Homo sapiens: one gene and its partners. The protein of the gene in region 1 interacts with the protein of each later gene in a biochemical or structural test. Each region holds a gene or a part of one and is shown in the gene's direction. Other genes may lie near its edges.

Region 1 (7,054 bases):
ACAGGTTAGAAAATTTTGTGTAAGTTTTTAAAATGTGCATACACGAGAGTTTTTATGGTGCCACACTTTTATTGTTTTGGATAACAAAATAGCCTAATGATAAGACATTTCCAAATATCTCATTTCAAAATATTTTCTCCACTGCATAGTTTATTTTTGTCTTTTGCTTTATTTATTGTAGAGTTAACCATACGCCACAGCACAGTTTTATCATCAGTACCTGTAAGAGCTCTCTAGTGAATTATTTCCGTAGTAATACATCTTATTTATATGCTTACTGTGTACCAGACACTATTCTAAGTACTTTACATATTGATACATTTAATCTACACAATAGCTCTATGAAATCAGTACAATTATCACGATTTTACAGATGAGGCAACTGAGATGCAAGGGGTTAAGTAACTTGCCCAAGGTTACATAATAAGTAGTAAAGCTAAGATTTACTACCAAGGCAATTTTGTACCAAGGCAGTCTGTCTCATAAACCCATGCTTTTAATTGCTACAGTACACCACAAAGATTGCACTAGTCACATGCTAACACTGATATTGTCCAACTGTCTGATTTTTGCCACTGTGATGAGTGTAAAGTGACATTTATAATTTACTGTATAACTTTGGACAAACTACTTAAACTCTGTGTGTGTTTCTTCATCTGTATATTGGAGATAATAAAATAATACTGATTTCAAATGGTTGTTGTGCAATTTAAATAATAGTAGTGATGTTGAGTATCTTTTCTATATTTATTGTCCATTTGGGGTTCCCCTTTTGGGAATTGCCTATTCATACCTATTGCCCTTTTTTATTGGGTTTTCTTTTTCTGATTGATTTGCAGGGTGTGTGTATGTGTGTGTGTTATGAGTTACATGTCAGTTTTAGACATTTATATCTCCTTCTATCATTTTGTCTATGGTGCCCTCAGTTGAACAGGAATCTTTCATTTCATTTTGATATACTCAAATCCATTAATTGTGTTCCAAATGTAGAGAGGATAAAGATATGAAAAACATTGTTTTTGCTCTAAGCAACTTAAAACTAGCTGGAGAATCAAGAATAACTATGAGAACAAGTGTTAAACATTGTATAGCAGTCTGCAATATAATGCCCCAAGTTGTAAGGCTGTGTAGCCAACAGTATAAACTTGGGAAAGTATCTAAATCTTCCTGAGCTTCAGTTTTATTTGGAAAACGGAAGCAATAAAAAAGACCTTTCCATTTACTGTATTTTTTAAATTTTTATTTTTTATTGTTATTATTTTTTTGAGATGGAGTCTCTCTCTATTGCCCAGGCAGGAGTGCAGTGGCACAATCTCGGCTCACTGCAACTTCTGCCTCCCGGGTTCAAGCAATTCTGGTGCCTCAGCCTCCCAAGTAGCTGGCACCACAGGTGCCCACCACCATACCCATCTAATTTTTGTATTTTTAGTGGAGACGGGGTTTAATCATGTTGGCTAAGCTGGTCTCGAACTCCCGGCCTCAAGTGATCCGCCTGCCTTGGCCTCCCAAAGTGCTGGGATTACAAGGCATGGGCCACCGTGCCCAGCCTCCTTTCTATCTATTGTGAAAATTAAATAAAATAAGAGATGTTGAATGGCTTTCATAGTACCTGGTGTATAGTACCAACTACAATTTAGATGCAAAGCCGATCATGAAATAATAATGGCTATCACATACAGAGGTCTACTACCTGCCAGGCACTTTTTATATGCATCTGCTTAAATTTCACAACTCCCTGCAAGGCATTATCACTGCCATTTGTCAGAGGCAGAAACCTAGGTTCAGAGGGCTTATTATTTGATGCAAGTCAGGCCATGCAGCTAGTAAATGGCAGTGATAGGATGGAAAGCCAGATTGGTTTGACCTCAAACCTCCTGTGCCTTCTACCATGCCAAGCTGTTGTCAGAAAAGATATGAAGGAAGCAAACTTGACGTGGTTCCTGAAAACAAAACAAACAAACAAACCCAAGCATTTTAGTAGATAAGAGGAAGGGAGGAAAGATGATACCAGATTCTGAGAGGGTGCAGTGGATCTGCAAGGGATGCAATGTATTGTGCGTTATTCGAGGGCAGAACTTTATCCACAATAGTTCCCTTCAATCCTTGCACAGTGACCAAGACAGAGTATCTGGTGCGGAACATCTATTCCCTAATCTTATTACCATAACAAGGGAGCAGGAGTAAGTTGTCTGACTGGAGAGTTTGAAAGAACTGGGGATGTGTCACTCTACCCCCTCAAGTTTGGGGAGCAGGCATGTCCCAGGAGGCACATATTTTCTGCTTTTCCATGCAGTTTAGTTTTTACACAGGCAGGTTTTCCAGCTCTGCTTGTGACTGAGTGGACATGTTCAATTCTGGGCCCGCTGTCCCTGCAGATCTAAAGCCATGGCTGCCATTCCAGCCTTTAGCAGAGACAAAGCTGACATTTTGCTCTCCATAAGTCTGACTCCTGTTGCTATCTCAGTGGATTCTGAACTTACATGGGGACCATGGGTATTATCTTGAAGCCCCCTAAAGCCACAACAGTGGGCACTCAACAAACCTTGGCAGCAGAGTGAGTATGACAAGTTCAGAGGACAACGAGGAGATGGGCCTGCTTTGAGCGGAGGAAGTATGCTGATGTAGTTGAAGAGAAGTTAGATGGACAGGGTGGGCCCAGTAATGCAGGGCTTATAAGAAAGGCAGAGTTTGGATTTGATGTGGGTAGAAGAACGCTGAAGTTTCTGAGTAGAGGAAGAACATGAACACGAGGAAGACAATGTTTAAAATAAGGGAAAGAATATGACAATGGATTGCAGTGGAGACTACAGGGGAGAGCCTGGAGTCAGAGGACAACGAAAGGAGGTTTCCAGAATTTCTGAGTGAGGGAGGATGAAGGTCTGGCCTAGGAAAGTGGACATGTGAACGGAGGCGAGGGGATGCATATGAGATCTCAGCGGCTAAACTGCCAGGCTATGGGTACAAGCCGGCTCTGAGAAAAGGAGATAGGTTTGAAGGCAACCACCCTGAAAGAGGTAGATAAGCAGGCCCTGAAGCTGGGGGAAGTGAGGCTTAGTCTTGGGCATGTGAAATCTGAGTTGCTAAGTGGATCTGCTCTCCTTACTAGTTATGGCAGGAAAGGCGCCTTAATTAGGAGCATTTTAGGGAGTTAACCCTGTCAAAGAGGTAGCACACTTTCGAAGGCCAAGGGCTGGGAAGAAGGTGGTGAAGATGGCAATCCTGAACACAGAGGCTACTTGGGATGACAGGGATGGGAGGAGGGACACAGGTGATGAGTGAGTGGGCGGAAGAGAGGAGGGGGACACCGCTCCCCGGCCCGAGGGAAGGAGGGGATGAGGCTGCCGGCAAACGCTGGACTCAGGATCTTCCCAGCAGAGCAGGGCGGCCGCCACCTCACCCGGGACAATGCACTGTAGAACCCACAGCAGCCTTCCCCACGCCGGCCGGTCTTCCCGGCCCTGCGCCCACTTCCCGGTGCCCCGCTGCCCTGCTGCCGTGACCCCGGGATGCGGGGTCTCCTCTGCCTCCCTGGGCCTCCCCCTTCAGCCATGGGGGGCGGCTCCGCTTCCTAGGCCGCGGGACGTCTTTTCCTCCAGGTTCCAGTCCCGGACCTTCCCGGGCCCCCCACGGCACCGCCCACCTGGCCACCGCCGCAGCCCGCCCGGGCCGCCGCCAGCCAGCAGCCCCTCCCGGGGTGGGGTTTCCCTTCCCCCTACCCCTTTGTGGCAGGGACCCACGGGACACCCCCTCTGCCTCCGCTCCACGTCCAGGGGGCCGAAGGGGCGCCGGACGAGGGACCGTGCGGAGAGAGGGGTTCGGCGGCGCCAGGACTCCCGCGGGCTCCCCGGAGCAGGGGTCGGAAGGAGGGGGAGCGGGAGCCGCGGGGGCCGCTGCAGCAGAAGGGGGAGGAGAATGGGGAGGAGCTGGGGGGGCAGGCAGGCGGGGAAGGAGAGGTCTTAAGGGGCGGCGAGGGGAGGTCGCATTTCCTCCGAGGCTGGCGATCGGCGGAGCTCCCACCTCCGCTTACAGCTCGCTGCCGCCGTCCTGCCCCGCGCCCCCAGGAGACCTGGACCAGACCACGGTGAGCGCAGGGCGCACGGCGCGGAGGCCGGACTCTTCGGGCGGCCGGGGGTGCTTGGGCGGCCGGAGCGAGCCTGCGGGACCCGAGCAAGTTTCCCAGGTCAGCGCGGGGCCCGGCGCCTTCAGACTCGCTCTCTTCTCTCTTCCGCAGATGTGGAAACGCTGGCTCGCGCTCGCGCTCGCGCTGGTGGCGGTCGCCTGGGTCCGCGCCGAGGTAGGCGAGGGGCCGAGGAGTCCGAACTCGGTCCCCGGGGCCTCTTGGGTCTGCGCGCTGGGCGGGTGGGCGCGCGTCCTGGGGATGCTCTCCCGGGGTGGCGCTGGGAGTTTCGGTCCTTGGGGTGTGCTGGGGTGGAGCTGGGGCAGTAATGCTGCTTACGAAACTTAAATCTTTAAAGCAGGAAAAGTAGTTCGGGCCGTAAGCGGGAGCCCCGCCGCGGCTAACATGGAGGGAGAGCGGGGAGGAGGAGAGGGGACGGGCTGGGCCGACGGGGACGAGGCGGCGACTGGAGCAGCAGCGAGTTCAAAAAGGCGCCTCAGTTCCGTCCTTCACTTCAGAGGAGACTGAGAGTAGTTGGGGACTTTTCCCTCCCAAGTCTGTCTCCTGGGGGCGGGGGCAGAGGAATCGGGATTCTTCTTTTGGGGCAAAATTAATTTTCCTTTCTCTCTTTTAAAGTGAGATCATGATTCTCTGAAATGTATTTTCTTCTTTGTGAAGTGTCCTCGGGTTTTGTGTTATCATCTGGGCAATGTAACGGCCTTTTCCCAAGTGTTCCCTGTAACGTTGCGCAAGTGTAAGAGAAGATCCATTGCTCTGCTCTTTGGGGGCTCGAGTTTCCAGTTAAAGCATTTCAGCGCTTGTTTTTTTGTACCAATTTTTTCAACTCTAACGACCTTCCTGAGACACTACAAACAAACCAACAAACTCTTTGCTCAGAAGCCGCTCCATTAACTCAAAGGTTTATGGACAGAAAATAAACAATTCTAAATTCCCCGGGCTCCAGTCTCCAGGAAAGTGAGGTCAGAAACTAAACATTTGATAATTATGGCAGGAAATATGGAAGGAATTAAAAAGCATGAGGGAGAAGAAATGGAATGCACATTACAAAAGAAATAGCTCCCTGGTGGGTGGTTTATGCTCCCTGTTTGAATTTTTTCCTTCATATTACAGTTTAACCACACCCTTAGCATCGCAGCTTGACTCTGCCCAAAAAAGTCATAAATGCATACAAGGTCTTCACAATTTTTAAAAAATACGCATTGTACTGAATTCTCATTTAATTCACTACTACGTTGTTGATTGAGGTGGAAACTCAATCAACTGTTTTTACTGCCAATGAAATAAAAGTAGCTAATATTTATTAAATATCTGCTATGTTGTAATAAAATTCCATTTTAATGACAGATAAATTGAGTCAGCGAAGGTTACCCAATGCTCTCAGCTATTAAATGCTAAGGGTGGGATTTGAACCCAAACAGTCTGGCTCCGGACCCAAGGCTCTTGACCATTAACCCACACCACTTCCAAGCACAATGGTTTAACATTTACCAAGTACATTTTTGTTTACCACACACTGGGCTGTGTACGTTACCTGCAGTTACTTCTTTTAAAGCTCCCAAACCCTGTAATGTAGGTTTTATTATCCCGATTTTACAGAGGAAGAAACAGGTTTAAGGAGATTAGGTAACTTGCCCAGGGTCATACAACTAGTTAGCTCTGAAGCAGGATCTGAACCTACCTCTCTTACCTTTGGAGCCCATCTTGAACTCCAGGTCTGCTTCTTATCCATCTGGTTTTCCAGGGTTTGCATTTGAGAGCGTATCCCCCTTCACTGGCTGATGTAGCCCTGGTTAAGAAACATTTCTCCATCCCCTGCTGTGGCCCTCAAAAGGCAGTTGCAGACCAGTGATGGATGAGGTGAATCCCTGGTTGGTTTTCCAGCAGGCTCAAGAATTGCCAGCCAGTGTGTGAAATCACTCAGTGAACTGGAATGCAAATATGAGGTGTGAGGAGGCTGTTGGTTGACTTACCAGGCTGTGTGGCCCAAGGTCTGGAATCTATTCTAGGCGGCCTGCAAGACACACACCCCTCCCAACCCCCTTCCACACAGGGAAAACTTATCCCTGGTAGGAAGTTCCCCCAGCAGCAATTTCCTGCTGGAGGTAGAAGAGCATCCAGTGCTCTCACATAATTCCCAGGCAAACTACAGGGAAGAAGGCAAAATAGAGAAGTACTGAGATGTGAAAACAGAGTGCGTTGGGGGAGAAAAGAGGCTGTGAACTCACAGTGTATGGAAATGGTTACAATGAAAAGAGTGAGGGGTAGGTATGAGCTAGGTTACATTTCATGGCTCCAGGTTATTAAGGATTATTATCTTTTAATTATTCCAACCTCCTGGTGCCTGGCCAAGTAAGATTTGGCAAGTTTTTAATCCATTTAATAATAATATACCTTTAACAATTGATGAAGAGGTACATTAACCCTCTCCCTATGGGAATTGTAATTTGGATTTTTTAAAAGCCTTTTATCTTGTAGTTAATGGTGCTTGCTGTTTAAATTTCTTCCTTGTTAACTCTAAGGACAGTCTGCAAAAATGGTCACATCATGATATTTACAGTCCTTAGTGACAATCTATTTTAGTAAACTTCAAATCGCTAAAATTGTACAAATATTGTTGAACTTTTTAGAAATGAAATTTAGAAAATAAATTGAGGCTTCTTGGTGCTTTCTGCTTTTCTGCGACCATAAATATTTAATTCAGCATATTTTTAAACAATTTAATCACTTTACAAATCATGTTGATATTTGAAGAAGCCAGAGCCTCTGTAGTAAACCAGAATCAGAGGTGCTCTCCACTTGGGAAAAGGTGATTGTCATCAGTATTAATGCCAGTCTATGTCAATCCCATTTGGTTAGATTCACAAAGCTATTAACAAAAGTCATAAAGGAGCCTGGGCTCAGTGGCTCATGCCTGTA
Region 2 (7,112 bases), on another chromosome or scaffold:
CTGAGTCAGTGTAGTATTTGTTGGCTCAGATATTTATCAGATGCTATAGGAAAATACAACGCATTATATTGATCACTGCTTTAGAGTAATTATTACTAATTGTCAGTATGATCATGTAAACATTGCTAACAACAGAACTCTGTTGATGGGACCCATAAAGAAGAAAATGTAATCCTATGTCACAAAGCCTTAGTGTATCATATGAGAGTGGTAAAAGCAAGCGATTCCTCTTGTATTTTCATATTCACCACTTCTCAGACATAATTATCTACTACTTTATCTTTTTTTTTTCCTTTTCTTTTCTTTTTTTTTTTTTTTTTGAGAGAGATTCTCACTCTGTTGCCCAGGCTGGAGTGCAGTGGCATGGTCTCGGCTCACTGCAGTCTCCGCCTCCCAGGTTCAAGTAATTTTCGTGCTTCAGCCTCCCAAGTAGCTGGAATTATAGTCATGTGCCACCAACCCTGGTTAACTTTTGTATTTTATAGAGACAGTGTTTTACCATGTTGGCCAGGCTGATCTTGAACACCTGACCTCAGGTGATGCGCCCGCCTTGGCCTCCCAAAGTGCTGAGATTACAGGCATGAGCAACCGTGCCTGGCTTAACTTTATCTTATATTCAGTGTTGTCCTCTTTCTTAGACACCAGACTTATTTAGTGACAAAACCTGACCTGAACGGATGTGAGGTGTGTATTGCCCTTATCCAGTTGAGGAGGACTATCGGACTTAGTGTTTTGCTGTAGACACAGTACTGAGTACTGAGTTGGATTAAGAGTGCTGCCCCAACCCTGCTGAGGATGTCATGTAGTATGTAGCATGTATTTAAAGAAAAATCTGAAAAATGCTAAATTCCACAATGCATCTGGCCCCAAGGAGAAAAAGAAGCTTTTATAAAATAGGACAAAAATACAAGATAAACTATTTTATTTTTGGCCCTCAACTTGGACCTTGGCTTTCTTTTGTTTCAGTGACACAAATGAAGTTGATGTGCCCTTGAATACCAGGGTGGGCACCAAACGCTACATGGCTCCCGAAGTGCTGGACGAAAGCCTGAACAAAAACCACTTCCAGCCCTACATCATGGCTGACATCTACAGCTTCGGCCTAATCATTTGGGAGATGGCTCGTCGTTGTATCACAGGAGGTGGGAGTTTGAGTAGTTTCTGATTATGTTGATTTACTCATCATTTTAAAAATAACAGCTCCAGTTATATAACTTTTTAGTTTTTAATTTTTGTGGGCACATAGTAGGTGTATATATTATTGGATAAGGAGTTATTTTGATACAGGCATGCCATGTGTAATAATCACATCTTGGAGAATTGGATATCTGTCCCTTCAGACATTTATCCTTTGTTTCACCAACCAGTTATACTCCTTGAGTTATTTTTAAGTGTACAATTAAATTATTACTAACTGTAGTCCTCCCCGTTGTGCTATAAAATACCAAATACTTATTCATTCTTCTATTTTGTCTCTACTTATTAAACATCCCCCCCCATCTGCTGCTACCCTTCCCAACCTCTGGTAACCATCCTTCTGTTCTCCATGAGTTCAGTTGTTTTGATTTTTAGATCTCACAAGTAAGTGAGAACATGTGAAGTTTGTCTTTCTGTGCCTGGCTTATTTTACTTAACGTTATGACATCCAGTTCCTCCATGTTATTTCAGAAGGCAGAATCTCATTCTTTTTTCTGGCTGAATGATACTCCATTGTGTGTAGGTGCCACATTTTCTTGATGTGTTCATCTGTTGATGGTCACTTAGGTTGCTTCCACATCTTGGCTATTGTGAACAGTGCTGCAGCAAACATGAGGGTGCAGGTATCTCTTCGGTTAGCTGATTTCCTTTCTTTTGGGTATACACCTAGGAGTGCAATTGCTGGCAGTTACGTAATTTAGATGTCACATACGTCAGAGTCCCCAAGACCACCCCCAGGTTGTGCGATTTCACTTGAAGGACCACAGGACTCGGCATGTGGTTGTCCCAATGGCTAACATTTATCCCAGTGAAAGGATACAAATCAAAATCAGCCAAGTTTAGAAAACCAGGCGAGGCTTCCCAGAATCCTGTCCCAGCGGAGTCAGGGCGTGTGCTTCATTCCTCTTACTAGTTGTGACAACACATACAAAGTGTTCTCATTCGGGAAAGCTCCTTAGAGACTTGGCACCCAGAGATTTTACTGGAGGCTGGTCACATAGGCATCCTCTGCCTGGCATGTACCAGAATTCCAGCAGGAAAGCAGACGTGCAGTACACACCACATTGTTTGCACAAGCAGCCCAGGAGTGGTGAGTTACCCTCACCGTTTCCGGTAAGTTTTATATCCATGTAGGGAACTGTTTACCATTTGTGTACCCGGGCACTGGCCAAGGCCAAACCTTGCAAGCCGCCTTTCCTAAGGGAAGGTCTCAGGCCTGCTGTGTGAACCCTTATCTGCACCTCATAAGTCTTTCTACTGCAGAGCAAAATGAAACAAAATAATAAAAACTATTCATTAGTAGGAACAACCATATAAGTAAATAATTATACTTTAGGGTAAATGGCTGATTTCGCCTTGCTTATTTTTTTTAAGGAAGATTGATATGCCCTTTGTCGATGGACTCTATCACAGTTGTGATGACATCCCTGGTGGAGGTAGAGGAAATAGTTGGACATAAATAAGAGAAAAACATACATCTACTATTAAGAGTGAATCATAGTGTCTATATTTTTTCTTGTGTAAGAATCCGTTTTAGTTCCATAGTTTAGCAAAAGATGCTTACTAGATTGGTATATCTTGTCCAGCAACCATTTTTGTGCCCATGTTTTCTCATTCCCTTATAGGGATCGTGGAAGAATACCAATTGCCATATTACAACATGGTACCGAGTGATCCGTCATACGAAGATATGCGTGAGGTTGTGTGTGTCAAACGTTTGCGGCCAATTGTGTCTAATCGGTGGAACAGTGATGAAGTGAGTGGAACTCAGTCCCCTGAAGAAGTGATTCGTAAATGCCACCAAATATATTCTCTGCTCACTGAACATCTCTTTACTTTTCAGTGTCTACGAGCAGTTTTGAAGCTAATGTCAGAATGCTGGGCCCACAATCCAGCCTCCAGACTCACAGCATTGAGAATTAAGAAGACGCTTGCCAAGATGGTTGAATCCCAAGATGTAAAAATCTGATGGTTAAACCATCGGAGGAGAAACTCTAGACTGCAAGAACTGTTTTTACCCATGGCATGGGTGGAATTAGAGTGGAATAAGGATGTTAACTTGGTTCTCAGACTCTTTCTTCACTACGTGTTCACAGGCTGCTAATATTAAACCTTTCAGTACTCTTATTAGGATACAAGCTGGGAACTTCTAAACACTTCATTCTTTATATATGGACAGCTTTATTTTAAATGTGGTTTTTGATGCCTTTTTTTAAGTGGGTTTTTATGAACTGCATCAAGACTTCAATCCTGATTAGTGTCTCCAGTCAAGCTCTGGGTACTGAATTGCCTGTTCATAAAACGGTGCTTTCTGTGAAAGCCTTAAGAAGATAAATGAGCGCAGCAGAGATGGAGAAATAGACTTTGCCTTTTACCTGAGACTTTCAGTTCGTTTGTATTCTACCTTTGTAAAACAGCCTATAGATGATGATGTGTTTGGGATACTGCTTATTTTATGATAGTTTGTCCTGTGTCCTTAGTGATGTGTGTGTGTCTCCATGCACATGCACGCCGGGATTCCTCTGCTGCCATTTGAATTAGAAGAAAATAATTTATATGCATGCACAGGAAGATATTGGTGGCCGGTGGTTTTGTGCTTTAAAAATGCAATATCTGACCAAGATTCGCCAATCTCATACAAGCCATTTACTTTGCAAGTGAGATAGCTTCCCCACCAGCTTTATTTTTTAACATGAAAGCTGATGCCAAGGCCAAAAGAAGTTTAAAGCATCTGTAAATTTGGACTGTTTTCCTTCAACCACCATTTTTTTTGTGGTTATTATTTTTGTCACGGAAAGCATCCTCTCCAAAGTTGGAGCTTCTATTGCCATGAACCATGCTTACAAAGAAAGCACTTCTTATTGAAGTGAATTCCTGCATTTGATAGCAATGTAAGTGCCTATAACCATGTTCTATATTCTTTATTCTCAGTAACTTTTAAAAGGGAAGTTATTTATATTTTGTGTATAATGTGCTTTATTTGCAAATCACCCACTCCTTTACAACCATACTTTATATATGTACATACATTCATACTGTAGAAACCAGCTCATGTGTACCTCATATCCCATCCTTAAGAGAAGAAATGTTATAAAGTAGAACTAAATATAAATTTTCAGAATTAATGCATTCAAAGTAATATATCAAATCCAGGACTTTGTTAACTTCAGGTAAAAACTTCATTAGGGTAATATCATCTCAATTTTTTCAAATGAAAGGATTCTCTAATTAGAAATTTATATGTCAGAGCTGTTATAAATTTATCAACTGTCAAATATGTTCTGGACAGCTAAATCATTTGAGATTTTTGGTTTTTTGATTTCTATTCCCTAACTTGTGAAGACAATGAAAAATCAGGCAGAAATATTTAGTATCTAGTCAGTATCTGTAGCTACACTGTATAACTGTTCTTCAATAAAATGGTTCATATTTTATAGATGCCTTGTTATCTCAAGAAATCTGATTTACATAAACTTATACTTCTTTAATGCTTTTTAAATATTTATTCTGAGCAAACAATTCATGAGTACATCAAGTGAGATAGTTTTATTTGATTATAACATAAAATAAATGTGATTATATCACATCATCATCAAAAAGGTTTAAATTAAATGGGAGGAAATCAGCATATGTCCACCCATTACCAAAATTTGACTATCATTTAAGGTTAAAACTTACAAATTTGTCTGCACATCAAATTTCACAAATTTGAAAATTGCCTTAACCATTTTGATTAATAAGTTTCATCTGCCATAATTAAAGTCTGAAGTGTTCATCAAGATAAGTAAATTTGCATATGGATAATACCCAATAACTTGTTTTTTCAGAATTTTTCACCATATGTATACTGAGAAATACAAATATTTTAATCTGCGTTGCCGTATGATATGATTGCACTTAGAACACCCAATTTACTTAAATCTTGGTTTACTTTTGACTTGATACCATAATCTTTAAAATCATTTGTCATCTTTTTTTTTTTTTTTTTGAGACGGAGTCTCGCTCTGTCGCCCAGGCTGGACTGCGGACTGCAGTGGCGCAATCTCGGCTCACTGCAAGCTCCGCTTCCCGGGTTCACGCCATTCTCCTGCCTCAGCCTCCCGAGTAGCTGGGACTACAGGCGCCCGCCACCGCGCCCGGCTAATTTTTTGTATTTTTAGTAGAGACGGGGTTTCACCTTGTTAGCCAGGATGGTCTCAATCTCCTGACCTCATGATCCACCTGCCTCGGCCTCCCAAAGTTCATTTGTCATCTTAATAAAAATATAAAGACAGGCAAAGTTTATTGGAAATGTTCAAATGGTGTGTGGAAGCAAAAAATTACAGCCAGTATATGAGACCACTATTATGGTTTTTTAAAATTAACTTGGTCTAGTAAAAGTGATATCAAGAGTTAATCTTAGAAACTTGCTCAGTAAAAACATTTTCTAGTATAACATGTTCTTTAAAAAGCAAATGCTGCCGTCTTTGGAATCTTAATCTAAAAATGTGGCCGGGCGCGGTGGCTCACGCCTGTAATCCCAACACTTTGGGAGGCTGAGGCGGGTGGATCACAAGGTCAGGAGTTCAAGACCAGCCTGGCCAACATGGTGAAACCCCATCTCTACTAAAAATAAAAAACTCAGCCAGGCGTGGTGGCGGGTGCCTGTAATCCCAGCTACTCGGGAGGCTGAAGCAGGAGAATTGCTTAAAATCAGAAGGTGGAGGTTGCAGTGAGCTGAGATCGTGTCACTGCACTCCAGCCTGGGCAAAAGAGCGAAACTCCATCTCAAATAAACAAACAAATAAATAACAAAAAACAAAAATGTTGCATTAAACTTAGTTCTTGTCTCTCCTTTCCACTCTTATTCTTAAATCTGAAGCTCATCGACTAAGTGAAATATTTAAAGAATATGATAGGCCAGCAAGAAGAAGTATTATGTAGTACCATAGTTAGTAAATTCGTAAAACCTTGGAAGCCATTATTTGGTCCCACTTGCAATTTAGTGTTTTTGAAGTGTGTAGCTTCATTCAGATAGCTCTTTAAATAATTAAAATATAAAAGCAAACAACCCAAACTACCTGACTATAAACAGGAAAAGTTAACCCTCAAAGAGAGTTCTTGTGAATTCTCTTTATGCTGGCAAATAGCTCTAGGATTAAAGGCACATTAGGGTTTCCTTCAGTTTGTTTATTCTAAGCTTTTACTGTGCTTTTTACTGAACAAGTTTCTGATGTATAAAACTTGCATCTGATTTCTTTGGAAATATTTTCACAAAAGTTATTTTAATCAGTATTTTTACATTGCCTTTCCAGTGTCCAGAAGTGTTTCTAAACTTAGAAAGTGACCTATAGTTTTTTAAAATTATGTTTTCCTAGAACGTGCCAAATTTTGATTTACTCTAACAATCAGTACTTTTCTTCAGATGCTTTGTTCTGTTTAGAACAAAAATGCACTATAGTTTTTAAAGAATCATGCATCTTTGGGTTGGCCCAGGATCAAATTTGATATTGAATAATTTATTCCAGGGCAGCTTTCATAAACATACTTCATAGATGTTGTTTTGAAATGTTTCTAAATATCTAAAATCATTTCAACAGCAGAAATGATTTTTATTTTAACAAAAGATTATGATAGCCCTTGTAGTGTTTAAAAGTGGTCATATTTATTACTGACTTTGAGTCAGGTGTTAAAATAGCAGTGCCACAGCTCGTCTCTTGCCTTAGTGTGCTGCTGTGAGAGTCACAGTGGAAACTGCAGGGAGGAGGTGTGTTCCTAAGAACCAAAATCCAGCACAGCATCCTGTGAAGCCACGTGTAATGATGGTCCCATAAGGAAAGTATGTGAATATGGCTCTTGTAAAGGATTAACTATTGTAATTTTAGCTTATGCTCTGTATTCTGTTTTCTATGGAATTATTTAAGCCCTTTTAGTGA
Region 3 (7,112 bases), on another chromosome or scaffold:
CTTAGGCCTGTTATGTTTGCATTTTGGGAGGCCCAGGCAGGAGGATCACTTGAGCCCAGGAGTTTGAGACCAGCCTAGGCAACATAGGGAGACCCTGCCTCTTCCAAAAAAAAAAAAAAATTGGCTGGGCATGGTGGTGTGTGCCTGTAGTCCCAGCTACTTGAGGGGCCGAGGTGGGAGGATCACCTGACGAGGTTGTGAGCCTTTATAGTGTCACTGCATTCCAGCCTGGGAGACAGAGTGGGACCTTGTCTCAAAAAAAAGTGTTAAAGGGAAGACAGCAGAGAACAGAGTAGTAGAGTGGCAGCCAAGGAGGTGGAAGCTCTGGCTTCTTGGCTTCTTTCCCTGCTCCTAGACTGGCCTGACACTTTTCTTTTGGCCAAAATAGGTCAGTGATTACTTAGGCACAGTCACACGTGGACCTGCTTCCAGGGCGCTTCCACAGGTTAATGCTGGCTTATGTAGTTTATGTGGTGGTTGTTGTTGACGTGGGCTCTCCCTGTTGGATTTGGAGATGCTTACTGGTAAGGACTTTGTTTTAGGCAGATTTTTGGCTTCTTCACACAGTGGTGGGCATCTGGTAAAGTGTCTGTGAATCTCCTGTGGATTACAATGTCTCTAAACGTGGGTTTAGTTAGCTGTAAAAGGGGGTGAATACCAGCTTTATTGACATTCCAGGTTTATTGTCAAGATTCAGTCACATAGTGTGTGTGAAAATGCTTCGAAACTGGTAAGGTGTTTTATTTATATAATTAAAGGGAGATATTAGTAATGAGTTATAGTCCTAAAACAACCAACATTAGTGTTTCATTGTTATAATTTTTATATATTGTCAAAATAGTGTAACTTTTTTATAGCATTCACATTTATCTAAGTGAGAAATTGCCTAAAACTTAAGAGTTGTCACTGTGCTTGGTAGGTTGGAAGAAGAAGCTTAACAGTGACAAAGATGCTGTCTTCAACAGAAACTGGTAATGAGTGATACCTGAATAATCTAGAAAATCCTGCATGCCTTCCCCTCAGCCTGTTGAAAGTATCCTCTGCCTTTCTTCATACCTCACACCTGGCCTTATTCTCCAGCATCCTCACTGCATTCTCATCATCAACCATAGTGATTGGCGTTGGCCCTGAGGGAAGGTTCTGGTAGAATGCTATGATTTATTTCCATAGGGCAAGTTTGCTGAATTTCTGTTATAGATTCCCAAGAGGGAAATAAGGCATAGCTGTGTTCTTGCTCCTTAACTTTTCTGGCTGTTTTGCCCTCTTGACTTAGGAGTCTGCTTCAGATTAAGATGAAGATGAAGAGTAGAAGTACATGGAACCCCACTCTTCTTAGACCCCCTGCCCCCCAATCATGAACACATACAGAAGAATTCATATGTGTGGTTCCTGAAAACCTATCAGGATGTTCATTGATGGAAGTGAGATCATTAGAGGTATAACCTTGATATTTAAAAAAGAATTAATTCCCAAACCTTTGTGCTTTGCCTGTTGCTGTAACAAATTACCTTGGACACACCTCACAGCTGATTTTGGCACACCAGTGCTGTACGTGTCTTGGAGCTATTGCTGCTGAACTGCTTTAAAAACATGGACAGTGGTATTTTGTTCTTTGTTTTAATAGACTACAGTGGGTTAGAGAGGAAATTCCTACACAATAGGCTACCTTTATCCCATTCCAATTACTTTATTCTGGTTAATAGGTCTATTCCATAGCTTTAACTTTAGTCTTTTTCTTGATTTCTTATATTCTAACAATGCAGGACTTCTAGTCTAGATGGAATAAAATGAAAAGGGGGAAAAAACTCTGGGTATACAGGAAGAGACTTCTCTCACAAAGCTTTTTTCCTCTTTAACTGTCTTTAATTTCTAAAATCTGGGATATATTTGTGTGTGTGTGTGTGTGTGTGTGTGTGTGTGTGTGTGTATATTTTGAGACGGAGTCTCACTCTGTTGCCCAGTCTGGAGTTCAGTGGCGCGATCTCGGCTCACTGCAGCCTCCACCTCCCGGGTTCAAGCAATTGTCCTGTCTTAGCCTCCTGAGTAGCTGGGATTACAGGCACACGCCATCACGCCTGGCTAGTTTTTTGTATCTTTAGTAGAGACAGGATTTCACCATATTGGCCAGGCTGGTCTTGAACTCCTGACCTCGTGATCCACCTGCCTCGGCCTCCCAAAGTGCTGGGATTACAGGCATGAGCCATCGCGCCTGGCCCATAATTCTTAATTTTCAAAATGACAGCCTGTCATTGCCTTTGTGTTAATAAACATTTGTTGTGCTTCTTGAATATTTTGTGGTATATAAAAGTTCTCATGTTCAGCCAGGCGCAGTGGCTCACACCTGTAATCCCAGCACTTTGGGAGGCTGAGGCGGGTGGATCACCTGAGGTTAGGAGTTCCAGACCAGCCTGACCAACATGGTGAAACCCCATCTCTACTAAATACAAAAAATTAGCCGGGCGTGGTGGCGTATGCCTGTAATCCCAGCTACTTGGGAGGCTGAGGCAGGAGAACCACTTGAACCTGGGAGGCAGAGGTTGCAGTGAGCCGAGATTGCACCATTGCACTCCAGCCTGGGCAACAAGAGCGAAACTTCGTCTCAAAAAAAGAAAAACGTTCTCATGTTCAGATTCTACTCATCTGTCAAAGGCCACCCCAAATGCTCTCTATCTTAGTCTATTTTGTGTTGTGTTTGTGTTCTATAACAGAACACCACATATAGGTAATTTACAAAGAAAAATTTATTTCTCACAGTTCCAGAGGATGGAAGTCCAATATTAAGGTACTAGCATCTAGCAAGGACTTTCTTGGCCTGTCATCCCATGGTGGAAGGTGAGAAGGCAAGAGAATGTGTGGACGAGAGAGGAAGGGGGCCAAAATCATCCTTTTGTCTGGAACGCATTCCTGATAACTAACCTGTCCCTGCGATAACAGCATTAATCCACTGATCATCTCTTAAAGGTTCTGCCGCTCAACACTGCTGCATTGGGCACTGAGTTTCTTCCTTTTTCTTAATATTCATGTCTTTTTTTTTTTTTTTTTTTTTTTTTTTCAAGAAAACACACAACAAATGTCAGAATATGAGATAGGGAAGTTCTCCTGGAACAGCATGTAGATTATTTTCTAGAGCACTTTAGTTAAATGGTACTTAATGATGATAATTCTTCTGAACACAATTCAGAATTTGAACCAATATTTGTTGTTTCAGGAAAGCAGAATTTCCTTTGAATGATGGATAAGAATGGTGAGGATCTTTATAATATAGAATAAATTGCTGAAAAGAAACTTTGAGGGAATATTCAAAGCACCCTCTTATTTTGAACCTTCCTTGATCATCTCTAATGTGACTGCTTTCTCAGAACTTCCATATCATTTGTCCCCTCTTTTGGAGTTCTTGCTGCTTTTTGTTTTTGTATTTGTTTTCACTTATTCAGTAATTATTCAGTGTCCACTGCATCCTAGGTAATATTTCAGCTGTCAAAAGTCAGATTTTGGCTGGGCATGGTGGCTCACTCCTGTAATCCCAACACTTTGGGAGGCCGAGGTGGTTGGATCACCTGAGGTCTGGAGTTCGAGACCAGCCTGACCAACATGACAAAACCCCGTTGCTACTAAATATAACAAAAAAAAAATTAGCTGGTCATGGTGGCACGTGCCTGTAATCCCAGCTACGTGGGAGGCTGAGGCAGGAGAATCGCTCAAACCCAGGAGGCAGAGGGAGACTATTTTTATAATGATACTAAGATGCCATTTCTGTTTTCACTGTGTTGACACTTGTACTGATGGTCCAAAAGCAGTAATAGGGAAAACTGCTGGGCACTTTAACGTAAATTGAGGCAGGGACTCCAAGTGTCACTGATAGTCATTATATTATTCGCTACCTCTCCACTTGCAGTTTTAAAAAAACAAAAAGGGCTGCTTTCACTTAAACAGACCCTGATGAAGCAGTAAAAATTAAAAAAAAAAATTGGCCTTTTGTCTTTTCATGAGGAAATGGGAAGTACATGAATTGCTTTTGCTGCACAAAGAGGTACAGTGCCTGTTTTGAGAAACAGCAATTGTGTAGTTTGAGTTGCAAAGCGAACTAGCTGCTTTTATTGTGAAATGCCATTTTTGCTTGAAAAAGTGGGTAGCAGACAATCTGCAGTTATTGAGACTTGGGTATTTGGTGGACGTTTTCTGGAAAATAAATGAGAGGAAATAACTGACAATTTATGACCAATGATAATATTTGTGCTTTCAAGCAAAAATCAAAATTTTGAAAAAATTTATCTGCTACAGTGAGCTTGACAGTTTCTCAATAGTTAACGACTTCTTTGATGAGATTGGTGACAATATAATGAATGAGTATTTGATATTATATAATTAAATGTGTCAGCATTTGGAAGATCCACATAATTTTGTGAACTAATATTTTCCAGCTCACCATTGCACCACGTTACAAAGTCATAGTGCATGGGTAAAAGATTCATTCAAAAGATAGACCAATGGATTTTAATGTAGTGATATGAAAAGTTCACTGATAAGAGTTATAGATTCTACATTATAACTTTTTTTTTTTTTTTTTTTTTTTTGAGATGGAGTCTTGCTCTGTCTCCCAGGCTGGAGTGCAGTGGCGCGATCTCAGCTCACTGCAACCTCTGCCTCCCAGGTTGAAGTGATTCTCCTACCTCAGCCTCCTGAGTAGCTGGGATTACAGGTGCCTGCCACCATGCCTGGCTAATTTTTGTATTTTTAGTAGAGATTGGGTTTCACGTGTTGGTCAGGCTGGTCTCGAACTCCTGACCTCGTGATCCGCCCGCATTGATCTCCTAAAGTGCTGGGATTACAGGCCTGAGCCACCACTCCCGGCCACAACTTTTTTTTTTTAAGAGACTCCCCCTTGCCTGGTTTTGGTGTTGTATCAAGGAAGAATGTCCACAGTGATCTGAAAAGGCTGCTGAGACACCCCACCTTTTTCCAACTGCATGTCTCTCTGAAAAAGGATTTGATTCATAGACTTCAACCAAAAAAACCACACAGTACAACAGATTGGATACAGGAGCAGGTATGAGAATCCATATTGTCTTCTCTGAAGCCAGAGTTAAAGCAACTTGCAAAAATGTAAAAGAATACCTCTTCTTACTAAATGTTTTTGTTTTCAGAAATCTTTTATTTTTAGTAAAAAATATTATTTACCTTAATATCTAGTCAGTTTATTATTAAAAATTTTAAATGAGTTAGGCCGGGCGCGGTGGCTCACGCCTGTAATCCCAGCACTTTGGGAAGTCGAGGCGGGCGGATCACGAGGTCAGGAGGTCGAGACCATCCTGGCTAACACAGCGAAATCCTGTCTCTACTAAAAATACAAAAAATCAGCCGGGCGTGGTGGTGGGTGCCTGTAGTCCCAGCTGCTCGGGAGGCTGAGGCAGGAGAATGGCGTGAACCTGGGAGGCGGAGGTTGCAGTGAGCCGATATCGCACCGCTGCACTCCAGCCTGGGCTACAGAGCGAGACTCCGTCTCAAAAAAAAAAAAAAAAAAATTTAAATGAGTTAAATATTTAAAAAATTTCACAGTATTAGTTTTGTTTGTTTGTTTGTTTGTTTGTTTTTTAAGATAGTGTCTCGCTCTGTTGCCCAGTTGGGAGTGCAGTGGTGTGAGGATAGCTCACTGCTGCCTTTAACTCCTGGGTTCAAATGATCTTCTTGCCTCAGTCTCTTGAATAACTAGAACATAGTAGCTGAAAGACATGGATGTCATCATCTATTTCTTTATATTTTTTGTAACATTTTAAAGCTATTGCCTAGTTTAATAATTATTTCAGTTTGTGTATGTAAGGACAATCAGGCATTTAAATTTATAAAACATGTTTGAAAATCTTTAAAAGTTACACTTACTGACTAGTTGCTTGTCTGTTGCACTAACAAAATTTATTATTCATGTTTCGGGAATACCCTCTTTAGGTTTTGTTTGTTTTTTTTTTCATAGTAAATTATCCCAGTACAAGTGTCTTTGTACAAAATTTTGATTTCTAAGTTTCTTTAAAAATATCAATGCCAGCTGGGCCCAGTGGCTCACACCTATAATCCCAGCACTTTGGGAGGTCGAAGAGGATGGCTGAGGAGGTTGGATCGTTTGAACTCAGGAGTTTGGGATCAGCCTGAGTGACATGGTGAAACCCCATCTCTGCTAAAAAATATGAAAATTAGGGCTGGGTGCAGTGGCTCATGCCTGTAATCCCAGCAGTTTGGGAGGCCGAGGTAGACGGATCACTTGAGGCCAGGAGTTTGAGACCAGCCTGGGCAACATGGTGAAACTCCGCCTCTACTAAATAAAAAAAAAAATTAGCCTGGCATGGGGGCAAGTACCTATAATCCCAGCTACTCGGGAGACTGAGGCAGGAGAATCTCTTGAACCCAGGAGCCGGAGGCTGCAGTGAGCTGAGATTGTGCCACTGCACTCCAGCCTGGGTGACAGTGAGACTGTCTCAAAAAAAAAAAAAAAAAAAAGCTGGGTGTGGTGGTGCACGCCTATAATCCCAGCTACTCTGATGGCTGAGGCAGGGAGAACCGCTTGAACCTGGGAGGTGGAGGCTGCAGTGACCTGAAATTGCACCACTGCACTCCATGATACCCTGTCTAAAAAAAAAAAAAAAAGAGAGAAAATCGGCGCCAGAACAAATCCTACACAAGCCCACTTGTGTCAGAAATTTAAAATAGTCAGACTCATAGAAGCAGAGAGTAGAATGGTGGTTGCCAGAGACTGGGGTGGTGGGAGAATCTGGAAGGTGTTGATCAAAGGGTATATAGTTTCAGTTATACAGGATGAGTAACTGCTAGAGAGCTGCTGTACAGCATAGTGCATATAGTTAACAATACTGTATTGTATATTTAAAAATTTGTTAAGAGAGTAGAGCTCATGTTAAATGTTCTTATCACAAACAGGAAAGGAAGAAACTTTTAGAGATGATGTTTATGTTTATGTTTATGGTGATGGTTTCACAGGGATATACTTACCTTTAAATTCATCAAAATTTATATATTAAATATGCACGAGTTCTTATAGGTTAATCATGTCGATTTAAAAAAAGAAATATCAGTGATTTCAATTTTAATATCCTAAAACTTTAAAC

What was found.
Region 2: the proteins of FSTL1 (region 1) and BMPR1A interact in a biophysical measurement, tested with the Homo sapiens proteins (one study listed by IntAct).
Region 3: the proteins of FSTL1 (region 1) and DIP2A interact in a biophysical measurement, tested with the Homo sapiens proteins (one study listed by IntAct).

Annotation. Positions count from the first base shown.
Region 1 is NC_000003.12:120,447,924-120,454,977, reverse strand, and holds the start of FSTL1 (follistatin-related protein 1 precursor), read left to right. Parts: upstream 1-3,985; 5' UTR 3,986-4,081; intron 4,082-4,231; coding exon 4,232-4,294; intron 4,295-4,323; exon of another isoform or gene 4,324-7,054.
Region 2 is NC_000010.11:86,920,554-86,927,665, forward strand, and holds part of BMPR1A (bone morphogenetic protein receptor type-1A isoform 3 precursor), read left to right. Parts: intron 1-966; coding exon 967-1,142; intron 1,143-2,822; coding exon 2,823-2,953; intron 2,954-3,040; coding exon 3,041-3,166; 3' UTR 3,167-7,112. UniProt on the Homo sapiens protein: On ligand binding, forms a receptor complex consisting of two type II and two type I transmembrane serine/threonine kinases.
Region 3 is NC_000021.9:46,461,793-46,468,904, forward strand, and holds part of DIP2A (disco-interacting protein 2 homolog A), read left to right. Parts: intron 1-678; exon of another isoform or gene 679-730; intron 731-919; exon of another isoform or gene 920-971; intron 972-1,273; exon of another isoform or gene 1,274-1,436; intron 1,437-7,112. UniProt on the Homo sapiens protein: Catalyzes the de novo synthesis of acetyl-CoA in vitro. Promotes acetylation of CTTN, possibly by providing the acetyl donor, ensuring correct dendritic spine morphology and synaptic transmission.